7 linked regions of the Homo sapiens genome follow. The protein of the gene in region 4 interacts with the protein of the main gene of each other region in a biochemical or structural test. Each region holds a gene or a part of one and is shown on either strand. Other genes may lie near its edges. The genes, in order: USP9X, BIRC2, LATS2, MAP3K5, CDC25A, CDC25C and GEMIN5.

What was found.
Region 1: of the proteins of MAP3K5 (region 4) and USP9X, one has a biochemical effect on the other in vitro, tested with the Homo sapiens proteins (one study listed by BioGRID).
Region 2: the proteins of MAP3K5 (region 4) and BIRC2 form a complex in vitro, tested with the Homo sapiens proteins (one study listed by BioGRID).
Region 3: the proteins of MAP3K5 (region 4) and LATS2 form a complex in vitro, tested with the Homo sapiens proteins (one study listed by BioGRID).
Region 5: the proteins of MAP3K5 (region 4) and CDC25A form a complex in vitro, tested with the Homo sapiens proteins (one study listed by BioGRID).
Region 6: of the proteins of MAP3K5 (region 4) and CDC25C, one has a biochemical effect on the other in vitro, tested with the Homo sapiens proteins (one study listed by BioGRID).
Region 7: the proteins of MAP3K5 (region 4) and GEMIN5 form a complex in vitro, tested with the Homo sapiens proteins (one study listed by BioGRID).

Annotation. Positions count from the first base shown.
Region 1 is NC_000023.11:41,168,945-41,172,444, reverse strand, and holds part of USP9X (ubiquitin carboxyl-terminal hydrolase 9X), read right to left. Parts: intron 2,451-3,500; coding exon 2,210-2,450; intron 1,976-2,209; coding exon 1,826-1,975; intron 608-1,825; coding exon 487-607; intron 1-486.
Region 2 is NC_000011.10:102,374,714-102,378,213, reverse strand, and holds part of BIRC2 (baculoviral IAP repeat-containing protein 2), read right to left. Parts: intron 719-3,500; coding exon 464-718; intron 358-463; coding exon 316-357; intron 225-315; coding exon 31-224; 3' UTR 1-30. UniProt on the Homo sapiens protein: Multi-functional protein which regulates not only caspases and apoptosis, but also modulates inflammatory signaling and immunity, mitogenic kinase signaling, and cell proliferation, as well as cell invasion and metastasis.
Region 3 is NC_000013.11:21,055,087-21,058,586, forward strand, and holds part of LATS2 (serine/threonine-protein kinase LATS2), read right to left. Parts: intron 1-3,500. UniProt on the Homo sapiens protein: Negative regulator of YAP1 in the Hippo signaling pathway that plays a pivotal role in organ size control and tumor suppression by restricting proliferation and promoting apoptosis.
Region 4 is NC_000006.12:136,558,478-136,561,977, forward strand, and holds part of MAP3K5 (mitogen-activated protein kinase kinase kinase 5), read right to left. Parts: intron 3,169-3,500; coding exon 3,056-3,168; intron 400-3,055; coding exon 323-399; intron 1-322. UniProt on the Homo sapiens protein: Serine/threonine kinase which acts as an essential component of the MAP kinase signal transduction pathway. Plays an important role in the cascades of cellular responses evoked by changes in the environment.
Region 5 is NC_000003.12:48,181,918-48,185,417, reverse strand, and holds part of CDC25A (M-phase inducer phosphatase 1), read left to right. Parts: intron 1-722; coding exon 723-765; intron 766-1,581; coding exon 1,582-1,618; intron 1,619-2,387; coding exon 2,388-2,489; intron 2,490-3,500. UniProt on the Homo sapiens protein: Tyrosine protein phosphatase which functions as a dosage-dependent inducer of mitotic progression. Directly dephosphorylates CDK1 and stimulates its kinase activity. Also dephosphorylates CDK2 in complex with cyclin-E, in vitro.
Region 6 is NC_000005.10:138,325,305-138,328,804, reverse strand, and holds part of CDC25C (M-phase inducer phosphatase 3), read left to right. Parts: intron 1-275; coding exon 276-321; intron 322-2,750; coding exon 2,751-2,784; intron 2,785-2,900; coding exon 2,901-2,990; intron 2,991-3,500. UniProt on the Homo sapiens protein: Functions as a dosage-dependent inducer in mitotic control. Tyrosine protein phosphatase required for progression of the cell cycle. When phosphorylated, highly effective in activating G2 cells into prophase.
Region 7 is NC_000005.10:154,896,712-154,900,211, forward strand, and holds part of GEMIN5 (gem-associated protein 5), read right to left. Parts: intron 2,600-3,500; coding exon 2,480-2,599; intron 1,940-2,479; coding exon 1,729-1,939; intron 1-1,728. UniProt on the Homo sapiens protein: The SMN complex catalyzes the assembly of small nuclear ribonucleoproteins (snRNPs), the building blocks of the spliceosome, and thereby plays an important role in the splicing of cellular pre-mRNAs.

The sequences.
Region 1 (3,500 bases), on a different chromosome or scaffold from region 4:
TGGAAGTGGTTGTTTCTAAGGATAAAAAAGGAACAATACCGCAGATGACACATGACCCATATTATAGTCCAGGTATAGGCAAACATTTTCTGTAAAGGGCCAGGAAAGTTAAGCAGTTTAGGCTTGTGAACCATATGGCCTCTGCCACAACTCCTGGGCGGTGCTATTTTAAGACAAAAGCAGTCATGTAGACTGAATGTAAACAAATGAGCCTGGTTTTGATCATGGACACTAAAATTTAAACTTCATATAATTTTCATGTATCACAAAATATTATTCTTCTAGATTTTTTTTTTGTAGCCACTTAAAAATATAGCTCTTGGGATGCACAAAAACAAGCAGGGGGCTTGATGTGGCTTGTGGGCTGTCATCTGTCAACTCTTGTTATAGTCTATACCAAAAAGCACGGTCCATTTAGAAACAGAATTTGCTAATATACTCCTTTATTGTCCAGCAAGTACTTGATCATCATTTAAAAATTCTTACCTGGCGGCATAAGTTTCATAAGTACTCTTGCTCCATCTCTAAGGGGTGGCATATTTAGGCTGCTACCTAAGTCTGCAACTTGCCAAAGAAAAGAGATGTATCTGGGATGCAGTGACATTATCTAGAATATAAAATACACAAAATAATTACCTCTAAATTATTTACTCCCGTTTTATAAAAGCCCAAGTAAGTTTCTCTGTGTTAATCCCTATACTTTTACTTATGAAATTTCTACTCTTTGAAATAGTCTGACTTTCCCATCTTTTAATCCCTACAAATCCTTAATAGTGCAGATCAAATACATCATCAAGTCACTTCCAGTCATTTTTTTGTGATAGCTCCTCTCCTGTTCTATTAAACCATTTCTCTCATATATACAATTTAGACTCTGGACATAACAAAAGGCTGCCATGCCCACTACCAAATTCTTAATCCAGTTGTTATAGAGAGCCAAATCCTCCTGACACTGGAGTGGCTGCTACTATTGTAACCATTAAAATTTCTGTCGGGAGGGGCGAAAGGAGAGCTTAAAAATATTTCTTTGGCTATATGTTACTGACAATCTGATAAAGATTACAGGTATTTTCCTACATAGTTCTTGTTTTCATTTATTTATATTTTTAGAGATGGGGTCTCACTCTGTTGACCAGGCTAGAGCATAATGGCACAATCGCAGCTCACTGCAGCCTAGAACTCCTGGGCTCAAGCAATCCTCCTGCCTCACAGCCTCCCCAGTAGCTGGAATTACAGGTGTGAGCCACCATGCCCAGCTCATATATAGTTCTAAAAGAACTATCCGTTTTGTGGTATAAATTTTAGAAAGTGATACAGCTGACTCTTGAACAACACAAGTTTGAACTGCACAGGTCCATTTACATGCAGACTTTTTTCCCAATCAAATGTGGACAGAAAATTCAGTATTTCCAGCAAGCAAAACCCAAGTATATGGAAGGCTAACTTTTTGTATATCTGGTTGCACAGGGTCATCTGCAGCATTTTGGGTATATGCAGAGGTCCTGGAACCAATTCTCCACGTATACGAGGGATGACTGTTTTCCTCTAAATTTATACATCCAATAGTGTTATAATTAAGCTCTAATTGGTTAATTTTATGTAAAAGTAACAATACTATACCTATGGGGAAATTATGTTTTAAATTCCAACTGTGTTACAATTACCTTTTAGAGGGATCCATTCTGAAGTTGGTGGTTAACTGTATTTTTTTGTCTCATTAAACTGTAAGCTCCTCAAGAAAAGAAAGAACCACTCTATATACTTTATTCTCAAAAACCCTAGCATGATGCCTTACATACAGTAGTTCAAAACTGTATCTACTCACCACTCCAGGCAAACAGCTTTCCACTTCTGGATTGGGACCATCACTGTAATGATTACCATGGTTTCCAGGAGATCCAGTGGAGGAATCAGAAGAGCTATCAGGGCTTGAAGGCATATTGGAACTTATCTGTGTAAGTTTGGCTGTAATAAGCTGAAAATTATATACTATGTTAATATCAAAAACAAGGAAAAATACTTACACAAAACACAAAACTTAGTGATATACCAACCAAAAAATCCGAAAGACTACATGCTATACTTTAATGCTATAACTCTAACACCTAACACAGTCCCAAACATAACAAATGCTCAATTAGTATTTACTGATTAAACGATAGTCTCTGGTTTGATTTTATTGAAAAATCTGTTAACTATACATACATACCGATTTATCTTTTAAGTTTAATTGTCCAATCAACTTTCTATCATCTGCAGGATCTATCAGCTCACCGCCCACAAAGAGCTCAATTTTTGTATGGGCTACGTTGGCTTTAATACGATTGAGAATACATCGTCGTACTGAACCAATTGTATCATTTGTATGAGACCATACCTCCAAGTCATCAACCTGTCTGCCCTGGTTTGGAAATCGAACTACAAAAGAGAGGTGTTTACCGCGGAATGCTCTGGGGGGAAAAAGAAAGACAGACATCATCATATTCAGCAGACTCTGAAATTTTGTTGCCAAGAAAATAATGCTGGGGATTTAACACTAAGTATTTTCTTATTAAACAAGAGGATGTGAATTAAAGATACTTAATACAGCTTGAGAATCCCTTATATGAAATGTCTGGGACCAGACAAATTTTGGATTTCTTGGATTAGGGATACTCAACCTGTATTACTTTCAGTATCTTGAAAATAAGGCCAGGCATGGTGCCTCATGCCTATAATCCCAGCACTTTGGGAGGCCGAGGCGGGTGGATCACTTGAGGTCAGTAGTTCGAGATCAGCCTGGCCAACATGGTAAAACTCCATCTCTACTAAAAATACAGAAAATAAGCCAGGCTTGGTGGTGGGCGCCTGTAATCCCAGCTACTTGGGAGGCTGAGGCTGGAGAATCGCTTGAACCTGGGAGGCAAAGGTTGCAGTGATCCGAGACTGCACCACTGCACTCCAGCCTGGGCAACAAGAGTGAAATGCAAAAGAAAAAAAAATATTGCTCCTTTTAACTAAAAATATAAATAATATTTAAAAACATAATCATATTCTATTGTTGTTAGTCTTGTATCTATGGTTGCAGAAAATGAGGTGTCTACTAAAATGAAATTAAATCCAAGATATAACGCTTATTTTTATGCTGTAAAAGCCCAACTCACTAAGACTATTTTTAAATGTAAAAGGTTGGCTGGACGCAGTGGCTCATGCCTGTAATCCTACCACTTTGGGAGGCCAAGCAAAGAAGATCCCTTGAGCCCAGGAGTTCAAGACCAGCCTCGACAACATAGGTAGACCTTGTATTAATAAAAAAAAAAATTCAAAAAAAGAAGGTAGAGTTTACCTTTTACATTTAAAAGGTCGTTTTACATTTTGTTAAAAGCATCAACAAAAATGCCACAATGCACTTTATTTTTTTTCTGGAAAAAAGCCTTCATATCAAAATTCACTCCAAAATGCTATTTATATTGGTATAGTACCTTTTTTAAAGTAAAATACAAAATAAAAATCATATTCAA
Region 2 (3,500 bases), on a different chromosome or scaffold from region 4:
TATGCAGGTTAAAATATAGACTATTTTTCTTTAAGAGAGAAATGTACGAACAGTACCCTTGATTATACCCCTGCAAATAGGGCATTTTCTTAGAGAAGGGGCACATTCCTGGCATACTACCAGATGACCACAAGGAATAAATACAACAGAAACTTCTTTGTCCATACACACTTTACAAGTTCGTTCTTCTTGCAACCTCCTCAATTGTTCTTCCAGTGACAGACCTAATAACAAAAAATAACTTTAGTGAAATTGTTTCCACTTCATTAAAAAAAAAGGGTAATAGTTCATGTTGGTTTTAAATCTTTGTTTTACCTGAAACATCTTCTGTTGGAATATACTTCATATTCTTATCCACTGAGGAAAGAAAACATAAAAACCATTACTCTACTAAATACAAAACTGAGCCACCGCATCTGGCCAGTCCTAAGAATTTCTAAAATAATTTTCCCAACAAACTCACCAAATAAGTTCTTATACAATGTAGAGTCAATTTCTTTTAGACAGTTTTTGAAGATGTTGGCCGCAGCATTTCCTTTAACCAAAATGGTATCAATCAGTTCTCTCGCTTGTAAAGGTATCTGTGTTTTTTGTTTAATAATATCATGTTCCTGTTTATTAATTACATTGGCCTTTAAAAGATTATCCAGGATAGGAAGCACACATGTCAATTGTTGAAAGAGAGCCATTCTGTTCTTCCGAATTAATGACAAATCATCTTCATTAAAAAAAGAAAAAGAAATCCATTAGATTTTAAACTCCTTTAACTATACTCATATAGTCACTAATAACCAACCCTACAAACAATTTAGGCACTAAATAAAGTTCAAAAAAGAACAAAGTAACTTGTTTGCATTTGTAAGTTTGTTGTTTGGAAAACTTCCAGAGGAAGTCTCTGTTTAATTTTTAAGTCTATATATTTACATGTCCTAGAACTCCGCTTTTACTTTATTTTGTTGCAAGAGATTTGTAGAAGACAGTAAAAATTTCCCCCCACCATATATAATAATACTCTTGTATTTCCATTATATCATTTTACTTTTGTAAGCACTTTCATAGTAATTTGTCTCATTTGATACAGTGATCCTGTCAATTAAACAAGGCGAGTATTACTGCCTCTCATTTTTACATAGGGAGAAAAAAGACTCAGAAAAGAATGAGTGGCCTAAGATCACAAGAAAGAATAAGCTGCAGAACCAGGCATCCTAGACCAGTGTTCTTTTCAACACCCCATACTTAAGACGTGGTATTGTAGTATTGTAGGGTTTGAGTTGCCAAGTCAAAACAGACCTAGGTTCCAGTGTTGGCTAGGCCCACTCACTAGCTATGTGTCCTCATCCTTCCCCATACACCTCAGTTTCCTCATCTGTAAAATATACATAACGGTACCTTCCTCAAAGTTGTAAGGATTGAATAATACATGTAAAGCATCTGGCACAATATGTGGTACATAGTTAACTACCATTATTATTTTATAAATGTCTATGTTTATAGCAATTAAAAAAAACTACCTAAGAATCAAGCCTGACCTTTTTTTAAAAAGCCAATGTTTTTCCTTTAATATCGCATCACATAAAACTCCACAGTTAATTTATATTTATGGAATATGGTAGTTCCTTCTTTTGGTATCTGAATCATTATAAAATTTGTCTATTTTCAGACTTTCAAAAAAATTTAAAAAGTACATCTCTACAAAGTACCAGTTTAATGAGAAATAAATTATAAAAACAGAAGCCTATCTTCTTTCCCCTTTTACATCTCTCTAGAAGTGAACTGCTCTATTAATCTCAAAACTATAAAATTCCATTCTGTGACAACTTTTTCTTCTACCTAAATAATTCCTCTCACTGCTAACCAATTTGTTCTTCACCTTTTCAAGATCTCCATGTCATTCCCAATTCTACTTGCACAAGAGCTATCTCCTGGCTTTGCTTCAAACCTCCTATTCTAATCTAGGTAGCAGTCAGGTATTTCAATGAAGTTCTCTATATTAGCACCCTTAACTCATCTTCCGTATTCCTTACTTGCCCTTTCCCCTATTAACACTGCCAAATCTGTAATTCAATACTATTTTCCAACCCATACAAAGTATGAGAAAGTCATAAATCTAAGGTGACAGTGATTTCATATAACCTTAGCTGGATTTCATTACTACTTAACAATCCTTAAATTGACTTTTCTTAGGCCCTTTCTTTCACCAAGTCCCTCCCACTTCCCAAGTCAATCTACCTAATGCTTAAAAAAAAAAAAAAATTGACGTGCTAGGAGCTGTGTTAAAGTGTTTTATTTGCAATATCTCATTTAATTCCTACAGCAACCCTATGGGAGTCATACTATTATTATCCCCATTTTACAGATGAGAAAGCCGATGTCTGGTTGAATAAATAGCCAAGCTAGTAACTGATAGAACTGGAATTTTTTTTTTTTTTTTTTTGAGATGGAGTCTGGCTCTGTCACCCAGGCTGGAGTGCAGGGGCACGATCTCGGCTCACTGCAAGCTCTGCCTCCCGGGTTCACGCCATTCTCCTGCCTCAGCCTCCCGAATAGCTGGGACTACAGGCATCCGCCACCATGCCCGGCTAATTTTTTGTATTTTTAGTCAAGACGGGGTTTCATCGTGTTAGCCAGGATGGTCTCAATTTCCTGACCTTGTGATCCGCCCGTCTTGGCCTCCCAAAGTGCTGGGATTACAGGCATGAGCCACCGCGCCCAGCCTGGAGCTAGAATTTAAACACAAATCTGTTTCAATGTAGAAGTCCAGACTTTAAATATTTTGCTACACGGTCATGCAATAAGGTACTCTTAAGTTATTCCTGTCTTTACTTACAAGCTTAAAAAGAAAGCATCTTCCAACGCAATACTCCAATACATATGCAACCTTCGCCTCTCTGCTGGCCCTTTAACCCTGTCTTTTGCACACTAGTCTCGCCAGCTAGTGTATATACTCCTTGACAGCAACCACTGTGATTAGGCACAGTATTTGGCACTGGTGCTCATGCTCAACAAATATTTATTGAAGGAGGGGAGGAGCCAAGATGGCCGAATAGGAACAGCTCCGGTGTACAGCTCCCAGCGTGAGCGACGCACAAGACGGGTGATTTCTGCATTTCCATCTGAGGTACCGGGTTCATCTCACTAGGGAGTGCCAGACAGTGGGCGCAGGCCAGTGGGTGCGCGCACCGTGTGCAAACCGAAGCAGGGCAAGGCATTGCCACACTTGGGAAGCCCAAGGGGTCAAGGAGTTCCCTTTCCGAGTCAAAGAAAGGGGTAACGGACGCACCTGGAAAATCGGGTCACTCCCACCCGAATATTGCGCTTTTCAGACTGGCTTAAAAAACGGCGAACCAAGAGATTATATCCCACACCTGGCTCGGAGGGTCCTACGCCCACGGAGTCTCGCTGATTGCTAGCACAGCAGTCTGAGATCAAACTGCAAGGCAGCAGCGAGGCTGGGGGAGGGGCGCCCGCCATTGCCCAGGCTTGATTAGGTAAACAAAGCA
Region 3 (3,500 bases), on a different chromosome or scaffold from region 4:
CTTCAGACAGTGTATTTTAAGCTTTAGTTTGAAGACAGTTGATTTCATGGCCAAATTATGAACTTTTGAAAGAATTTTCATGAGAATACTCATCAGTCAAGACTGCAGCTGGAAATGAACAACTCTGACATATTACTATACCATTTTAATGAGACTTCACATACGGGAAATTTTTCTTTCATCAAGAGTTTTATAAATATGACCCTCATGGATGTGGACTTTAAAAAAAATGGGGATATCAAGCAAAGTAAATCTAACTTTGGAAATTTCTTTGGCATCACCAATTGATTCACACACATTTTAAGTAACAAACTACAAACACTGGAATTTTAAAACCATAACAACTCACAAAACAAAAACACCTCATTCTCTAAATCCAGAGCTGAGACAACTACTAAATCCCATGCTTAATATAGGTGGCCTGTGTAAACAATGTGAGAGCAAAATTTTAAGCATGCCTTTAATTTGGTCCTACCAAACCCAATTCCAACCCTCAATCCAATCCTGGAAAATGCTATCAGATGTTCAAGAATTTTTATTCTAATTTATCCTAGTGCTTCACAAACCCACACTGGCTGCCAAACACACATCAAGCACCAACCAAGGAACCAACCAAACCAATGTCTCATGGGACCTGCGCTAATGACACATGTTGGCATTTTCTGAAGCAGGATTTCTTGAACCTAAAATTCCAGCTATTATTTAAATCATATCCCTACTATAATTAACTAGCAAAGCTGAAACTAAATCAGGCAGACGGGCCAGGCCTCCAGCCAGATGCTAAATGTCAGAATCATAAACCACTATGTGGATGTACCACACCAGCACTGTCAAGCCAGGAAGCCACAGGCCAAGGGCTACCTCTCATAATGAGGGTCTTTGAGGAAGGCAGTGATTGCATTCCTCTGGGGATCCAGGAAAACACACTTTAGAAGAATTCCCACTCTCCAATAGCAGCATCATCACAAGGCCTCAGAGAATTTGGCATTGCCATATGTGTACTGAGCATTGTGCTGGACACTATAAGGTCTCACCTAGGTAGAATTGGGTCTTTTTTTTTGGTGGGGGGGGCAGGGTCTCACTCTGGTTGCCCAGGCTGGAGTGCAGTGGCAAGATCTGAGGGGGAGTTTCGCCATGAGATGGGGTTTCGCCATGTCACCCAAGCTCGTCTCGAATTCCTGGACTCAAGTGATCCCCCCGCCTCGGCCTCCCAAAGTGCTGGAATTACGGGCATGAGCCACCATGCCCAGCCAGAGTATCACTTCTACATAAGCTTACAGTCTCGGGGAAAAAGACACCATCACATTCTCTATTAGACAGCTTTGTACATTATATTTTTATGATATACATTATGCAAATATAAATGGCATAAAAAAATTGAGCTACAGAAGTCTGTACTCAAGATATCACAACAGAGTGACCAAGTTGCAGATACATTATTAGTTCTTTGCAGCTTTCCTAATAGCAAGCGACCCAACAGGATGGGCCATCTTATATTCAATTTCATAGCCCAGCAGGGGTTCTCAATCGTTAAGAAAGCCTTGCCTCCTCTGCACCCCTCCAAGTTTTGGATACGCTCCAGCTAGGGAGTTAGAACACCCCTCCCATTTGAGAATCACTGCTATGGACTGAAGTAATAAATACTGTGACTGTCCAAAGAATCCCTGCCTACTTCCATGGAGGAGCACAATTCTTCAGGAAGGTGTTGAGATTATTTGGAGAAGGTATCTTAGAGAAAGGGATGTTTCACCAAAATTAGAAAGACTGGAAGGGCTATGATTTGATGGAGGAAGTGTGAAGCTATTCTTGGAGCCTGGAACTTCCAATGAAAAGGCTCAAACGTGGGAGAGAAAGATGAACAAAACAGCCAAAAAATGTTGGGGAGGGTGCAGGTGTCGTCCGGGTACATTTAATGAGAAAAATGAGTGAGACTCCCGAGTAAGAATGGAGTTAACTAGTAATGAACCATGTTGGCCCTTAGCATTCCTGCTCAAGATAACTGCCTAGAGGCAGGGAGGCTCACTATTCCAAACAGAGGCCCACTCCTTTCAAAATCCAGCTTACATTCTTAAGATCCTTACCATCCTAACTGATCAAGGGTCTATAGGATCTAAACTACACTACAAGATTCTAACAATCAGTGTTAACAAGAAATACAAACCATGGCTACAAAATATGGGATTTTTTCATTTTTCTCCCAGAAAAATTCCCATGTATGTCAAATATTGTCACACAAACAAAAAGTATTTGTGAATTAACTTAAAACACTTGTCACAATTAACTTGACATGATCTAGATGATAACCAACAAAGTCTTCCCAGGGTGAACGGCAAACATTAAACAATGCCAAATTTCCATTCTAATTTTAACATCATAACCAATGTCTTTATTTCCAATATTACCTTGCTGTTTTCATACTTTCAAAATAAAACTAATAATCACGTAACAGGCCGGGCGCGGTGGCTCATGCCTGTAGGCGGGTGGATCACGAGGTCAGGAGATCGAGACCATCCTGGCTACTACGGTGAAACCCCGTCTCTACTAAAAGTAAAAAAAAAAAAAAATTAGCTGGGCATGGTGGCGGGCGCCTGTAGTCCCAGCTACTCAGGAGGCTGAGGCAGGAGAATGGTGTGAACCCAGGAGGAGGAGCTTGCAGTGAGCCAAGATTGTGCCACTGCACTCCAGCCTGGGTGACAGAGCGAGACTCCATCTCAAAAATAAAAAAAAAATGAAAAATAAAAATCACGTAACATTATGTAACATTAGCCTTAAAATACTGAGAGAACAGCTAACAGTGAAATGAACATCCCAAGCAGGGCTGCCCTCACACTGGGGCCATCACAGGGCACTCTATGTAATAAAGCCCATTACAGAGAGCAGCAGTGACCTAGCATACAATGGGAACGATGCCCCTGGACTTGTGTAATTTGAAGGCCGATTCCTTCTAGAGGAATTACTAAGCAATAGACTTTTTAAAAGGAAGAAGATTCAGAGAATGTTTAGAGCTAGAAGTCAGTCACTTCAATCAAGCCTTACCCTTCTTTCTGATCATCAGAATATTTCGGTACTTTTTAGAACAGATTTAGTCAAGACAGAGTCAATGCATTTGAATTTACCTTCTGTATTTCTTCACACCAACTGTTTTTAAAAAGTCAGTAAGAAATACTGTTCAGAAGTTTCACAAGATTTTAACTACAAAATAAAATACAAAAGCAGCTTTTCGAAAATGGTGTTGGTATGGTTTTTCCAATACAAAAAAGAACACCTCTCCCCTAACCCCAGCTTCCCGAAATCCTTCCTCTGTTTATGGTCAATTTATCAGCTTCAATCCCCACCCTACCCCACCCCTTGGTGGAGTTTAGGAGCCCAAGGCTGGCTATTTACAACATAGCATTTAAAATAACAAGGAATCTTATTGTAAAATCATTCCCCTCCCACCAAAAGAAAGCCCCTCCCACCAACCCTGTGATTTGCTAAGGAACATGTACAGCTCCAATTTA
Region 4 (3,500 bases):
ATTTATTGAGTATAACACCATCATGAACTCAATTAAAGCATTTGTTTAAGGCAGCTTCAGAATATCTGCATGGACTTAGTCTGCATCTTATTCAAAAAAATTCTTCCAGTTGATTTTCACTTACTAATATAGAAATATTGGTTATTAGAGCCCTCAAAAATATCATTGTCCAACTAACTCAGTTTACTCAGAGCAGCTAAGAGCTAGAGAGCTCTGTCCAGAACTACAAAGCTAATTAGAGACCCAGCCTGGGAAGATACTCAGACTTTTTGATATTTGCCTGGTGCTCTTTCCATAGTGACAACAGAAAGAAAAGTGGTACCTTAGTCTCAAGCATTTTAAGTCATCACGTGTAACATAGTAGAGAACATCCAATAGTGTATAATCTTCAGCCAAAAACTGTAGAGAAAGTAGAATATGCACAAAAGATGTTTTATATAACTTTAATAAAGCACAAACTCTATTCATAATGTAAACCTTGACTATAATTAAAAATGAATCTAAAAATGAAATCTACTAAAAACACAATCTTCCAGGATTATTAGGGGAAAGGCCTCCCTGTTACTCAATAAATACAAAGAAATGCATCCAGGCCGGGCGCAGTGGCTCACGCCTGTAACCCTAGCACTTTAGGAGGCTGAGGCAGGCGGATCATCTGAGGTCAGGAGTTCGAGACCAGCCTGGCCAAAGTGGTGAAACCCCATCTCTACTAAAAATACAAAAAATTAGCTGGGCGTGGTGGCGTATGCCTGTAATCCCAGCTACTTGGGAGGCTGAGGCAGGAGAATCGCTTGAACCCGGGAGGCAGAGGTTGCAGTGAGCTGAGATTGACCCACTGCACTCCAGCCTGGGCGACAGAGTGAGACTCCGTCTCAAAAAAACAAAAACAAAAACAAAAACAAAAACAAAAACAAGAAATGCATCCATATTAACTTCCAAATGCAAAAAGATTACAAGTGACACAGAACTTCTGAATGGTCTTCTAATGAACAGATGAGACTCACTTGTAATCACTCTGCTGTTCAAAAGCAAATCTTGTATTTAGAAGTTCAATGCTACATAGCTTTGTTTTTCCTCAAGTGGATAAAAAGTGTTCCTGGAAAGGTACTGCCTATGCTTAATTTCTGAACTTATTTTTTCATGGTTAAGCAAAGGCACTTGACTGTAATTCACCATAAAAGCAGAGTCTTAATTTAAACTGCACCTTTATATTTTTAAATTTTATTTATTTTTTTATATATAGAGACAGTCTCACTATATTGACCAGCCTAATCTCCAACACGTGGCCTCAAGCAATCTGCCTATGCTTCCCAAAGTATTGGGATTACAGGCAGGAGCCACTGCACCTGGCCTCAAGCTTTTACTTTTAAACCAAATAAAAAGGGTGATTATTTAGTAGATTATCAATTACTATTCCTTAATTAGGATTTGAGCCTAAGTTAGAGGAATGTATATTCTGGAGTTGTTTAAATTTATTCAGCTGTAACTTGTTAAATGTAGATTTCTAAGGCGGCCCGAAATTCTACTTAGTTAATAAATTATCAAGTCAAAAGAAGAGATATCTTTATTCTTATTTATTTTTAAAATTTAAATATAAAACAAAACAATATTGTATTAAGAGGGTCTTTCTATCAAATATTACAATGTTTTAATGTATGCCTGTGTGTTCATATAATGAACATAAACAAATGCTATTCACGCTCATTACAAAAGTCTATAGGGGCTGGGCGCAGTGGCTCACACTTGTAATCTCAGCACTTTGGGAGGCTGAGGTGGGCAGATCACTTGAGGCCAGGGTTCGAGACCACCCTGGCCAATATGGTGAAACCCTGTTTCTACTAAAAGTACAAAAATTAGCCAGGCTTAGTGGCATATGCCTGTAATCCCAGCTACTTGAGAGGCTGAGGCAGGGAATCTCTCGAGCCTGGCAGGCAAAGATTGCAGTGAGCTGAGATCGCACCACAGCATTGCAGCCTGGGCGACAGAGTGAGATTGTGTCTCAAAAAACAAAATCAAAAAAAGTCTATACAGAGCAGAGAGGAATTAGATTATTACAGGTAAAATATGGTTTGTATAGAAAATATTTCTGAAATAAGTCGACCAGATTGATTTTATTAAGTAGCAATAAAATAGCTGCTGCCCAGTGGAATCTAATAATGTTGAAAAAGAATTAAAAATTTAACAAACAGGCCTGGCGTGGTGGTTCATGCCTGTAGCCCCAGTACTCTGAGAGGCTGAGGTGAGAGAATCGCTTGGGGCCAGGAGTTTAAGACCAGCCTGGGCAACATAGCGAGACCCTATCTCTAAATTTTTTTTTTAATTAGCTGGGTATGATGGTTCATGTCTGTAGTCCCAACTATTCAGGAGGCTAAGGTGGGAGGATCACTTGAGCCCAGCAGGTCAAGGCTGCAGGGAGCTATGATCACTGCCCTCCAGCCAGGGTAACAGAGCGAGACCTTGTCTCCAAAAAAATATAAAATAAAATAAAATAAAATAAAATAAAATAAAATAAAATAAAAATTAACATACAAAGAATTAGAAACAAGAAATTTTTTCTTTTAGTCCTGTCTTTATTTTTTTCCCACTCTTTCTGGTTTTCATTTCAAATACATAAAATTCCTAAGGGGCTCAGGACCACAGAGCTTTTGCCTGCCTCGTTGGATTGTACACACTGCAGCCCCACTGCACAAGGTTCTTCCCTGGTCTCCCTCCCACACCCCTCCTGAACATACATACAATTGGCCTATTTATACCCTCACATTCTGTTAGCCTTCAGCTCTTTCATTCCCTTCTCCAACAACCTTCCCCAACCTCTCTCGCCCTATCTAATAAACACCTGATACCTTTTTCTTCATAGAATTTACCAGTGTAGAATCACATTTGTATCTGTGGAGTTAGCTGATTATCACGTGCCTACCCTGGTCTGTAAGCCTCAGGAGGGCAGGGCTGGGTCTGATTTGCTCACCAGTGTATCCCCTGTGCCTGTCACATAGCAGGCACCCAACATTATGAAACGAAGTGAAAGAATACTTGTCCCACAGACAGTTTTCTTTACCCGGCTTATAGTGTCTTCATCAGCTCCATTCACTCTCAGCCAGTCGGTAAGTTCAGAATCTTCAGTATTTGTGCCAGAAGAATTTAGATGAAATACAGGCAATTCAGGAATTTCTAGAACAGAATTTTGGGAAGATATTCTTAATTTCACCTAACAGAGGTCATCTGAGACCCTCACAATCAACAGACATTTATTGATACTTTAAAAGATTTTGCTCTATCAGAGAACAGTTCATAGAAACAATTGAGATTGGCAGTATAGATGATAATATGAATAAAACTCAGAGAAGTGAATTTACTAGTAAATAAGGAGCAAAAGCAATAATGAAATGACACTCCTACGTTACACTTTCATATCAATTTTATGGTTTCTTAGAATAAACTCTGTGCACCAAAATTAGACTTTGTGTTTTTCATGCAATAAAGATGAATACAATTAGCAGAGA
Region 5 (3,500 bases), on a different chromosome or scaffold from region 4:
AGGGTCTTGCTCTGTTTTCCAGGTCTCAGGCTGGTGTACAGTGGCACAATCAGGGTTCACTGTAGCTTCAACTTTCCGAGCTCAAGCGAACCTCCCACTCCAGCCTCCCCAAGTAGCTGGGACTACAGACACGTGCCACCACACCCAACTAATTTTTTTTTTAACTTTGGTAGAGTCAAGTCTCACTATGTTGCCCCAGGCTTGTTTTGAACTTGTGGCCTCAAGCCATCAGCCTGCCTCAGCCTCCCAAAGTATTGGAATCACAGGTGTGAGCCACTGTGCCTGGTCAGTAGTTGTATTTTTCAAGCCTCATATGATTTGACAAGGTAAAACGTTTAAAAACTATGCCAAGAAAATCTGGTACCTATTGTTTCTATGGTTGGAACTCACAGAAAGTTATCTGGGTCACCTCTATCTGAATAACCAAACAATCATGATATGAATCAGTTTTATTCACCCTCTTCTCAAATCCTATTTCCCTTGATGTTATTTGCAAATAGGAGAAAAAACAGTAAATACGCTATGAAAATATTAAGACTTGTACAAACATGACATTTTTGACAATCTAATAGACGTAACATCAATTCTGGCAAAAGTACAAGCCATGAATATTTGTTGCCTGACTTAAATAAAGACCCAGGTACTTTGTTTAGTGTTTTAATTTTAATGACAAAATGGTGTTTTTTGTATTATTTCTTGAGAGGTTTTTTTTTTCCCCATAGGTTTCTGTCTAGATTCTCCTGGGCCATTGGACAGTAAAGAAAAGTATGTATTCACTGCTTTCAAATGTTTATATGTAGAAAAAACGTGTCTAAACTTAAATACCTTATTTAAATGAAGTTCTTCATACACTGGACTGGAGCCCTGGATTTACCTGTGCCTAGAAACACTCTGGAATCTCAAGAATGAATAGTTTGTGTCAGCAATTTTCAGAACTTTTTCTCCTTTATTTTAGCTATAATTTTGGTGTTCTGTTTGGGTCTTACCCAAACCCTTACTCTGTGCTCTGACATCATAGCCTTACAAGAACATGTGGGGTTTTTTTGTTTGTTTGTTTGTTTGTTTCTGAGGCAGAGTCTCACTCTGCCGCCCAGGCTAGAGTGCAGTGGCTCACTGCAACCTCCACCTCCCAGGTTCAACTGATTCTCCTGCCTCAGCCTCCCGAGTAGCTGGGACTACAGGAGTGCACCACCACACCCGGTTAATTTTTGTATTTTTAGTAGACACGAGGTTTCATCGTGTTGGCCAGGCCAGGAGTTCGAGACTCCTGACCTCGTGATATACCCTCCTCGGCCTCCCATAGTGCCCATAGTGCTGGGATTACATGTGTGAGCCACCGCGCCCAGCCGAATGTGTGTATTTTAAGAAAAGACATGGGTTTGTTTTTTTTCACCTAGAAGTCTAGTGTTGGGGGTGCTCCTGAGAACAGGACAGCTTCAGAAATTTATTCTCCCATCTCTTGCCTAAAATGGGAGTCTGTGACTGTACCCCCAAGCTACAGGCTAAACACTATCTCTCTGCTAATATGAATACCTCTTTACTTGTTTTATTCTCATTATTTACCTTCTGATCTCATTACAGCCTTGAAAATCCTATGAGAAGAATACATTCCCTACCTGTAAGTTAGTTCCTTGTTTATTTTGAGCTAATACCTGTTATCTGTTCCTTAGCTACCAGCATGACCTTGATAGGAGACTTAATTTAGAGAGTAAAAACTGCTTTTCTTTAGTCTCTTTTGAGACAAGGTCTTGCTCTGTCACCCAGGCTGGAGTGCAGTGGCAAAATCTTGGCTCACTGCAACCTCTGCTTCCCTGGCTCAAGTGATCCTCCCACCTCAACTTCCAGAGGAGCTGGGACTATATATAGGTGCACACCATCACACCCGGCTGATTTTTGTATTTTTTGTAGACATGGGGGTCTCACTCTGTTGCCCAGGCTGGTTTCAAACTCCTGCCTCGGCCTCCCAAAGTGCTAGGATTATAGGCAAGAGCCACTATTCCCAGCCTTTCCTTAGTCTCATAAGTACTCAAGATGTTCGGTCTGGAGGAATTTGTCCTCCATCTCTAACAGAGCTTTATTAAACCAGGAAGGGTTCTTTTGATGCAAATGTTATTTGGGGATTGATTTGGCACTGTAATCCCTGTTGAGGGGGGCACTGTAGACCTTGTGAGGTTAGCTGTAAACCCATGGAATGGAAACTTCTATGCTGTGTCCTGGCTGTGTCCTGGCAAGGTGGATTCCTGGCCACATTTACTGGTTACCTACTGCAGTGTGTGAGGAGCTAGTCTACCCCCTATTCAACCCCCCTTTTTTTTCTTTTGAGAACTGAATTTTCCACTGAAATTTTATTTGTGTGCCTTAATTATTTTCCTTTTTTACTTTGATAGCAGAAGCTGTTGGGATGTAGTCCAGCTCTGAAGAGGAGCCATTCTGATTCTCTTGACCATGACATCTTTCAGCTCATCGACCCAGATGAGAACAAGGAAAATGTGAGTGTGACTTCAATGTACTAACCTGAGGCAGAGGTGAAACCCACAGGCTGTCAGTGGCTTAGAAGTGGCTGGGCTGCTTTCTGGGAGACTAAACTTGGCCATTATGTGCGGTCTTTGGAGTCAGAGAATTCTGGGTTTGGATCCTGCTTACTAGCTGTGTGATGTTGGCAAATTCTTCTCTTTTTAATCTTTGCTCTTTTGTAAAATAGGAGTAGTAATACCTTTTAGGGATGTTGTGGCAATAAGTAAGATTATGTATGAAGTATTGAAAATGGTGCCTGACAGGCGGGAGTTGCTCAGATTGTAGCTCACAGGAGTAATTACATGTACAAATAGTGTTTGTCTGGAAGGCTCTGCCCAGGCTGTCCTTGCCTCTTTGCTCTGACCCTGAAATGAATTGTAAGCTTAGGAAAAGGCTCTTTGGCAGTATTTGTAAGAACGGGGTCAACAAGTTCTAGGGAATCTCAGAGTAACTGAAATGGTGGCTTGGAAGGTGAATTTCTGGTTATCTACCCTGAATGAGCCTGGCTTTTTTGTTCTTTTAGACATTGCACAGAGTAGGCATCCAAAACAGTTGTAATTTTTTCAGCCTTCTCTCTACTGTATTTCTATATATTTACTTTCTCCCCTTTTCCATTCCTGCTGAAATGCCACAGTTCATAATCCTTGTCCTTACAATCTTCAGGTTTAGTGTGAAACCCACTGCCTCCATGAACTCTCCTGATGATTTCTTTATCAACCTGGGAAGTGTCATGAGAAAGAATATGGAAATGAGTTCCAGCCTTGAGTGCTTGGAACAGTGTATCAGCCTCTAGTGCTTTTTACCAGGGCAAAGCTGTACTGATGCCTGGTTTTCCCCCGAAATAGCTTCTCAGGGTTGCTTGCCTGGAGCTTTGTTTTAAAGGGAAAACAGCATAGATGGTGGTTAAAGAGCTCTCACTCTGGAGTTGTCCTGTTTTACTTCAATATTTTGGGCACATTCCTTAACCTGCAAGGTCTAGTTTTCTC
Region 6 (3,500 bases), on a different chromosome or scaffold from region 4:
TTTCTTTTCTACCCATAAGAAAAAAAAAAACTCCATAGGTAGCATAGTGTAGTGTTTCCCAACACTTGATTTCTTTTAGTGACACATATAAATTCTTACGTTTCTGTGAAATTGTACCTTGTACCATGAAATGGGTACCAATCGAGAGGCTTTGTATTCAAAAGCTCAGTCCTTGAAATTAATACGGCTTACTGGTAATGAAGAAAATCTGAAGGAAAAACAGGATGCATGGACAAGAATAACTCCTTTTACTGATTCTTTATATTTGATTGCAGGTCACCTGGATTCTTCAGGACTTCAGGAAGTGCATTTAGCTGGGATGTAAGTTCTGTTGTTAAATGAACCCCACACAAAAGCCTTTTAGCACTGGTCATAGAGATTTTATCCTGTGCAGACTCTGCAGAGTACAAAACCTTTCATACTGGGTATAAGTGGGCTTTGAGGCCTAGTTCCTTACCTTGAACAGTTTCTAAGTTTTCCACATCTAAATAGTGTTGTGAAAATGAAGGCTATTCATTTTAACCATCATAATCAGAAGTATCTATAAGGAAATGAAGGAAAATGGTATACTACACTTATGTATAGGCTTTTATTTGTATGTGAAAGGTGCTGTATCTTAGTAATTGAAAGTACAGAGTGGCCGGACACGGTGGCTTACATCTGTAATCCCAGCACTTTGGGAGGCCAAGGCAGGCGGATCAGTTGAGGTCAGCAGTTCAAGACCAGCCTGCCCAACATGGTGAAACCCCGTCTCTACTAAAAATACAAAAATTAGCTGGATGTGGTGGCACATGCCTGTAATCGCAGCTACTTCGGAGGTTGAGGTAGGAGAATTACTTGAGCCCAGGAGGCGGAGGTTGCAGTGAGCCAAGACTGCGCCACTGCCCTCCAGCCTGGGCGACAGAGCGAGACTCCGTCTCAGAAAAAAAAAAAAAAAGAAAGTACAGAGTATAAGCTCTGGAATCAGTGTGTGGATTCCTGGCTTACTACTTCATTCACCAGTTGTGACTCTGACAAGTTTTTTTTAACTTCATTGGACCTTAATTTTTTTTATTTGTAACGTGGAGACAATAATAGCATTTCTCATAAAGTAGCTATTGTAAGGAGTAAATAAACTGTGTATCTAGCACATACCAAGCATTTTACTTATGTATTTATTTTTATTTTTGAGATGGAGTCTGGCTCTGTTGCCAAGGATGGAGTGCAGTGGTGCCATCTTGACTTACTGCAACCTCTGCCTCCCTGGGTTCAAGCGATTCTCCTGCCTCAGCCTCCCGAGTAGCTGGGATTACAGGCGTCCACCACCACGCCCGGCTAATTTTTGTATTTTAGTAATACAAAAATGGAGGCTTCACCATGTTGGCCAGGCTGGTCTTGAACTCCTGACCTCAAGTGATCAGCGCCCCACCCCCACCCACCCCTTGGCCTCCCAAAGTCCTGGGATTACAGATGTGAGTCACTGGGCCCAGCTTGAATTGCTTTAAATGCTCTAACCCAGATAGATAATGAAATCCATGGAGGGAGGATAGAAATTAATTTTTTTTTTTTTTTGAGATGGAGTCTCGCTCTGTTGCCAGGATGGAGTGCAGTGGTGCGATTTTGGCTCACTACAACCTCCGCCTCCCGGGTTCAAGTGATTCTCCTGCCTCGGACTCCTGAGAGGCTGGGACTACAGGCACATGCCACGACGCCCAGCTAATTTTTGTATTTTTAGTAGAGACAGGGTTTCACCATGTTGGCCAGGACGGTCTCTATCTCTTGACCTCGTGATCCGCCCGCCTTGGCCTCCCAAAGTGCTGGAATTACAAGCGTGAGCCCCCGCGCCCAGCCTTTTTTTTTTTTTTTTTTTTTTGAGACGGAGTTTTGCTCTTGTTGCCTAGGCTTAAGTGCAATGGCGCGATCTCGGCTCACCACAACCTCTCCCTCCCGGGTTCAAGCGATTCTCCTGCCTCAGGCTCCCAAGTAGCTGGGATTACAGGCATGCGCCACCATGCCTGGCTAATTTTGTATTTTTAGTAGAGACGGGTTTCTCTGTGTTGGTCAGGCTGGTTGCGAACTCCCAACCTCAGGTGATCCGCCTGCCTCGAACTCCCAAAGTGCTGGGATTACAGGCGTGGGCCACAGCGCCCCGCCAGAAATTAAATTTTTTTAAAAAGTTAGCCCCGGCCGGGTGCGGTGGCTCACATCTGTAATCCCAGAAGTTTGGGAGGCTGAGGCGGGCGGATCACGAGGTCAGGAGATCAAGACCGTCCTGGCTAACACGGTGAAACCCCATCTCTACTAAAAATACAAAAAATTAGCTGAATGTGGTTGCAGGCGCCTGTAGTCCCAGCTACTCAGGAGGCTGAGGCAGGAGAATGGCGTGAAACCGGGAGGCAGAGCTTGCTGTGAGCCGAGGTCGTGCCACTCCAGCCTGAGTGACAGAGCCAGATTCCGTCTCAAAAAAAAAAAATTAGCCCCAATACACTGTGCTGGAAAATTAGTAAATTGTAAATTGTATAAAACTCGTTCATCTTTGGAACATGTTATATGGTTATGCAGGCAAAATGAGGGTCTTATCCCCAGGATGTCACTTGAGTCTTGATATTTACCACAGAGAATACCCTATGTATTGTTGTTGGAAGAGACATATCAACTAGGAATAGGGCTCCTAGAATGAAATAGAAAAATGTTGGGATGCACCAATCCACTGAAGAATAATCAAACAGTATTTGGGACTAACCTGACAGGCAGTTTGTTTTAATCTGCAGGAATCATGACCAGCACCTAATGAAATGTAGCCCAGTGAGTAGCCTCTCTTTTTTTGGGTTTTGTTTTGCTTTTCAGGTGGGAGGCAGAGGGTTTCCATTGCACCTGTGGCTTGAGGATGCTGGACGTTCTCAGCAAACTCTCTTTTTTAGGCACAGCTTCTTTGTAGCACTCCGAATGGTTTGGACCGTGGCCATAGAAAGAGAGATGCAATGTGTAGTTCATCTGCAAATAAAGAAAATGTGAGTGTTTAATGGAAACCTAGATATATTGGCAGTTTTATTTTTTGAGTGAAGAAACTTGGTATCATAATGAGACATAGAACTGTTTATACCTCGTATGCTAGACAAGGAAACTGTATTACTATAGGGGAGAAAATTTCTTTGTTTTTGTTTTTTCTTATTAAAGTTTGGCCCTAGGACAGACACCCAGCTCCAAATCTTCCACAGTAGGTCATCATTATTTCTCATGTTCAGTTGATCATTTTGAGGACAAAAATTACCCTTACTGTAGTGTAAGGGATTTAGGAGTTTTTTGTTTGTTTGTTTGTTTGTTTTAACAGGTAGGGATAACTTGCATAACTTGTTCATGGATTTTTTTTTACCACTTTACATGCAAGTGTAGATTAATTTCTTATTTCCCCCTTAGTCTAGCTTTTAAGCCCTTATTCCGAGGAGGCCATGGTACTTTTTATCTAAACCTTAGGCCATCCGTCGTTCCAAGTTAAATCTAGCCTCTCCGGAGCCACCTCA
Region 7 (3,500 bases), on a different chromosome or scaffold from region 4:
ACTTTGGACTCAGGAATAAAAGCATAATGGGCCAAAGGTGCTGGAATAGACAAGCTTTGCAGATCCAAGAGCTGGGACAGGCATTAGGAGCCATGTCCAAATAGGTTTAATAGAGGAAGCTGGCTGGGAGAGAAGAAAACAGAAGCACAGAGAAGGCCTAGAAAATCTACTTTCACTAGATTTTTAGTTGCCATGAGATTCCTTGTGTACTCCTATAACAATATCTTCTCAGTTAAGCTTGCAAGAGTCTCTGTTGCACAAAACCAAAATAGCCCTTATCAGAATATTTAGCATATGCTTATTAGGTTTTTTTGCTTTGTTAAGGATGCTGTTTAAGAGAAAAATAAAATGCTAAACAGTCATTCTGGAAACTTTTTTTGATGGTGGATAAATTAAAATCTTTCTAGACTTGGTCATTTTATAAATAATGCCCAGTGGCATTATCTTTTAGGGTGTCCTATTTTCACCTCCATTTTTATTCTGCTGTTCCTAGAAAGCTACCTCCCCATGTACCACGTTCCTTGGGCTCTAAATATTCAGCTAAAAACCATCTGTAGGCCCTGTACTCTGTTAGAGAATGAAGAACTTAAAAAACCTCTTGTTAGTATCTCACAAAGTTATCTAAAGTGAATCAAATGTTTACATGTTTCAGAAACTAGGTAAGTGTGCCAATGCTTTAATCTGTTTTGATGTGTCAAAAAGGCAGTGGTATGTTACTGATTTTTAATCAGATGGGAACAAAAAAATTTAAGAAATAAAGAGATTTCCATTTTCCCACACTTTTCTCTTTTTTTTCTGAAGAGTCTCACTCTGTCACGTAGGCTGCAGTGCAGTGACACAATCTTGGTTCATTGCAACCTCTGCCTCCTGGGTTCAAGCAATTCTCCTGCCTTAGCCTCTCAAGTAGCCAAATTACAGATGTGTGCCACCATGCCTGGCTAATTTTTTTATTTTTAGTAGAGACAAGATTTCGCCATGTTGGCCAGGCTGGTCTTGAACTCCTAATCTCAAGCGATCTGCTGCATCTGGCCCAGTTTTTTTTCCATAGCTTACAGTTAAGAGGGGCATTTACAGGTAGAGTTCCATGATTTCTGTTAGAGGCCAACCATTCTCTCTTCAAGGAAGACAGTGCTGATAACATCAATGAAGAAACCCTAGACTGCCAACCCAAGGCCTGGGCTGACTAAGGTGTTTTTTTTTGTGTTTTTTTTTTTTTTTTTGAGACAGAGTCCCACTATGTTGCCCAGGCTGGATCTTGGCTCGCTGCAACCTCCGCCTTCCGGGTTCAAGTGATTCTCCTGCCTCAGCCTCCCAAGTAAGCTAGGATTACAGAAGCGTGCCACCACGCTCGGCTAATTTTTGTATTTTTAGTTGAAACGGGGTTTCACCATGTTGTCCAGGCTTGTCTCAAACTCCTGACCTCAAGTGATCTGCCTGCCTCGGCCTCCCAAAGTGCTGGGATTACAGGCATGAGCCACTGTGCCCGGCTCACAGGTGTTTTGTACAAACAGATAAGCAATGGGAATTACTGTGAATGACCATATTATCTCTTACTCTGAATACGGCAACTAACAAGTCATAGTACTTCAGTGGGATAGCATGGCCAGGGCTTGCTGGGCCTGCCAAATTGGCACAGCTTGTGCAACTGGGTTATTAACTTGGATTTGACTAGAAAAGGATTTGGGACACTTCCCTCTTGTATACTAGGAGATGAAATAACAGACTGACCTGTAGACTTTCATGCAGCTGCAGGGCTTCCTGGGCTCCCACCCAGTTGTTGGCCAGAAGCAGCTCTTGGGCACATCTGAGAGCCAGGGAAGCAGACAACTCATCCTCTCCTACGATGGCAGCCAACTCTGCAGCCGTTCTAAGTGATGCCGCATCCCCCTTTTTGGCCAAAACTTTGGCTGCATCATAAGCACAAGTGGCCCCTAAATAGCTATAATATGAATAAAAATGTGAAGAAAATGTCACAAACAGATTTTTATTCCCATTCCTAGAGGATGGAATCATTTCTTTCTATCTACTTTGCTGCATGTGCCTTCCTGTGGTCCCAGGTATGTCACTGCCCCGGTTGTTCCTGTGAAGGCTGAGGCCAACACAACTCAGCAGAGTGTATGAGAAACAATATCATATAGGTTAAGGACATAAGGAAAATGAGAGGGAATGACTCCTCTGTTGGGTTCAATCCAGCATGGGTTGAGGTTCCTTTATTTGATGTTATAAGAGACCATTAGAAAAATGCATAATTTCTTAATCTGCTGCTGAGGTTTTTCTTGAATAGTTATAGTGATTTATATAAATAAATCAGGAAGTAGTTCCTGATGAGTCTTATGAAACTAAGTTGAATATACATATCTTTTAAATAATTCCTTGCTGCTTTACCTCCACCTCTAAACTTATTACTTGTATTCTTGTCCTCCCCTTCCTGGCAGAAGCTCTCCTATGTTGGAAGCATCCCTCCACTCCTCAGGCTTACCATTTGGCAGCTACAGCATAGTGGCCATCTCTTTCTAGGACGGTTCCCCAGCTGAGGTACAAGTCCTTCAGGACTGGGTCCTCCGGGCGCAGCCGGGCCTTGGCAATCGCAATAGCTTCCCTAAAGGCAAGAACAGACCCTTTAGCCAATCTGAAAAGGCTCCTCTGTGTATGGTCCTAGGAGGGGCTGTAAGACAGGACAAACTGTCCCTTTTGTGTTGTCTTATTGTTCCAACTTCCTTTAAAAACTGCACTTGCATTATATAGACAAATTAGAAACATATGCTGCATTCGTTTCTTCACTTAGATCAGCAGTTCTTAAATTGTGGTCTGTGGATTCCTAGGGGGTCCTCAAGAACCTTTCAGAGGGTTCATGAGGTTAAAACTATTTTCGTAACAATGCTAAGAGTCAGTTATGTGCTTTTTTATTAAAAAAAAAAAAATGTGTTGACATTTGCACTGATTGTGCCAAAGCAGTGATTGGGAAACCTGGCATCTAAGAAGGAAGGCGGTGGCTCTTACAGTGGAAAAAAAGGAAGAATGCCCTTAATGAAGCAGTAAAAATTACAAATTTTACTAAATCCGTCAAGTCCAAAACACTTTAATATTCTGTGTGACAAATGGGAAGAACATTTTGTGTTCTCTGCTGCATTCCAAAGTAGAATGGTTGTCTCTAGGTAACACCTGTATGAACAAATTACAAGCTAAACTGGCTGCTTTTTCATAGAACCTTCTTTCTTCTAAAAAAAAAAAAAATGACTAACATAAATAACAGTTATTCAGTGTTGGGTATTTGGCAGATGTTTTTCTCAAAAATGAACAAAGTAGGCCTATCACTTCATTAAAAACAACCAACAGTATTTGTTACTAATGATAAAATGCGAGTTTTCTAGCAAAAATTAGAATTTTAGAAAACTTGTACCTACCACTTGTGTGCCTGAGTTTCCCATAAGTTAGAATTTTCTGATGAGACTGATGGTGATAGTAAGGAATGTGGTATTTTTGGGTATTTTATAATAAGA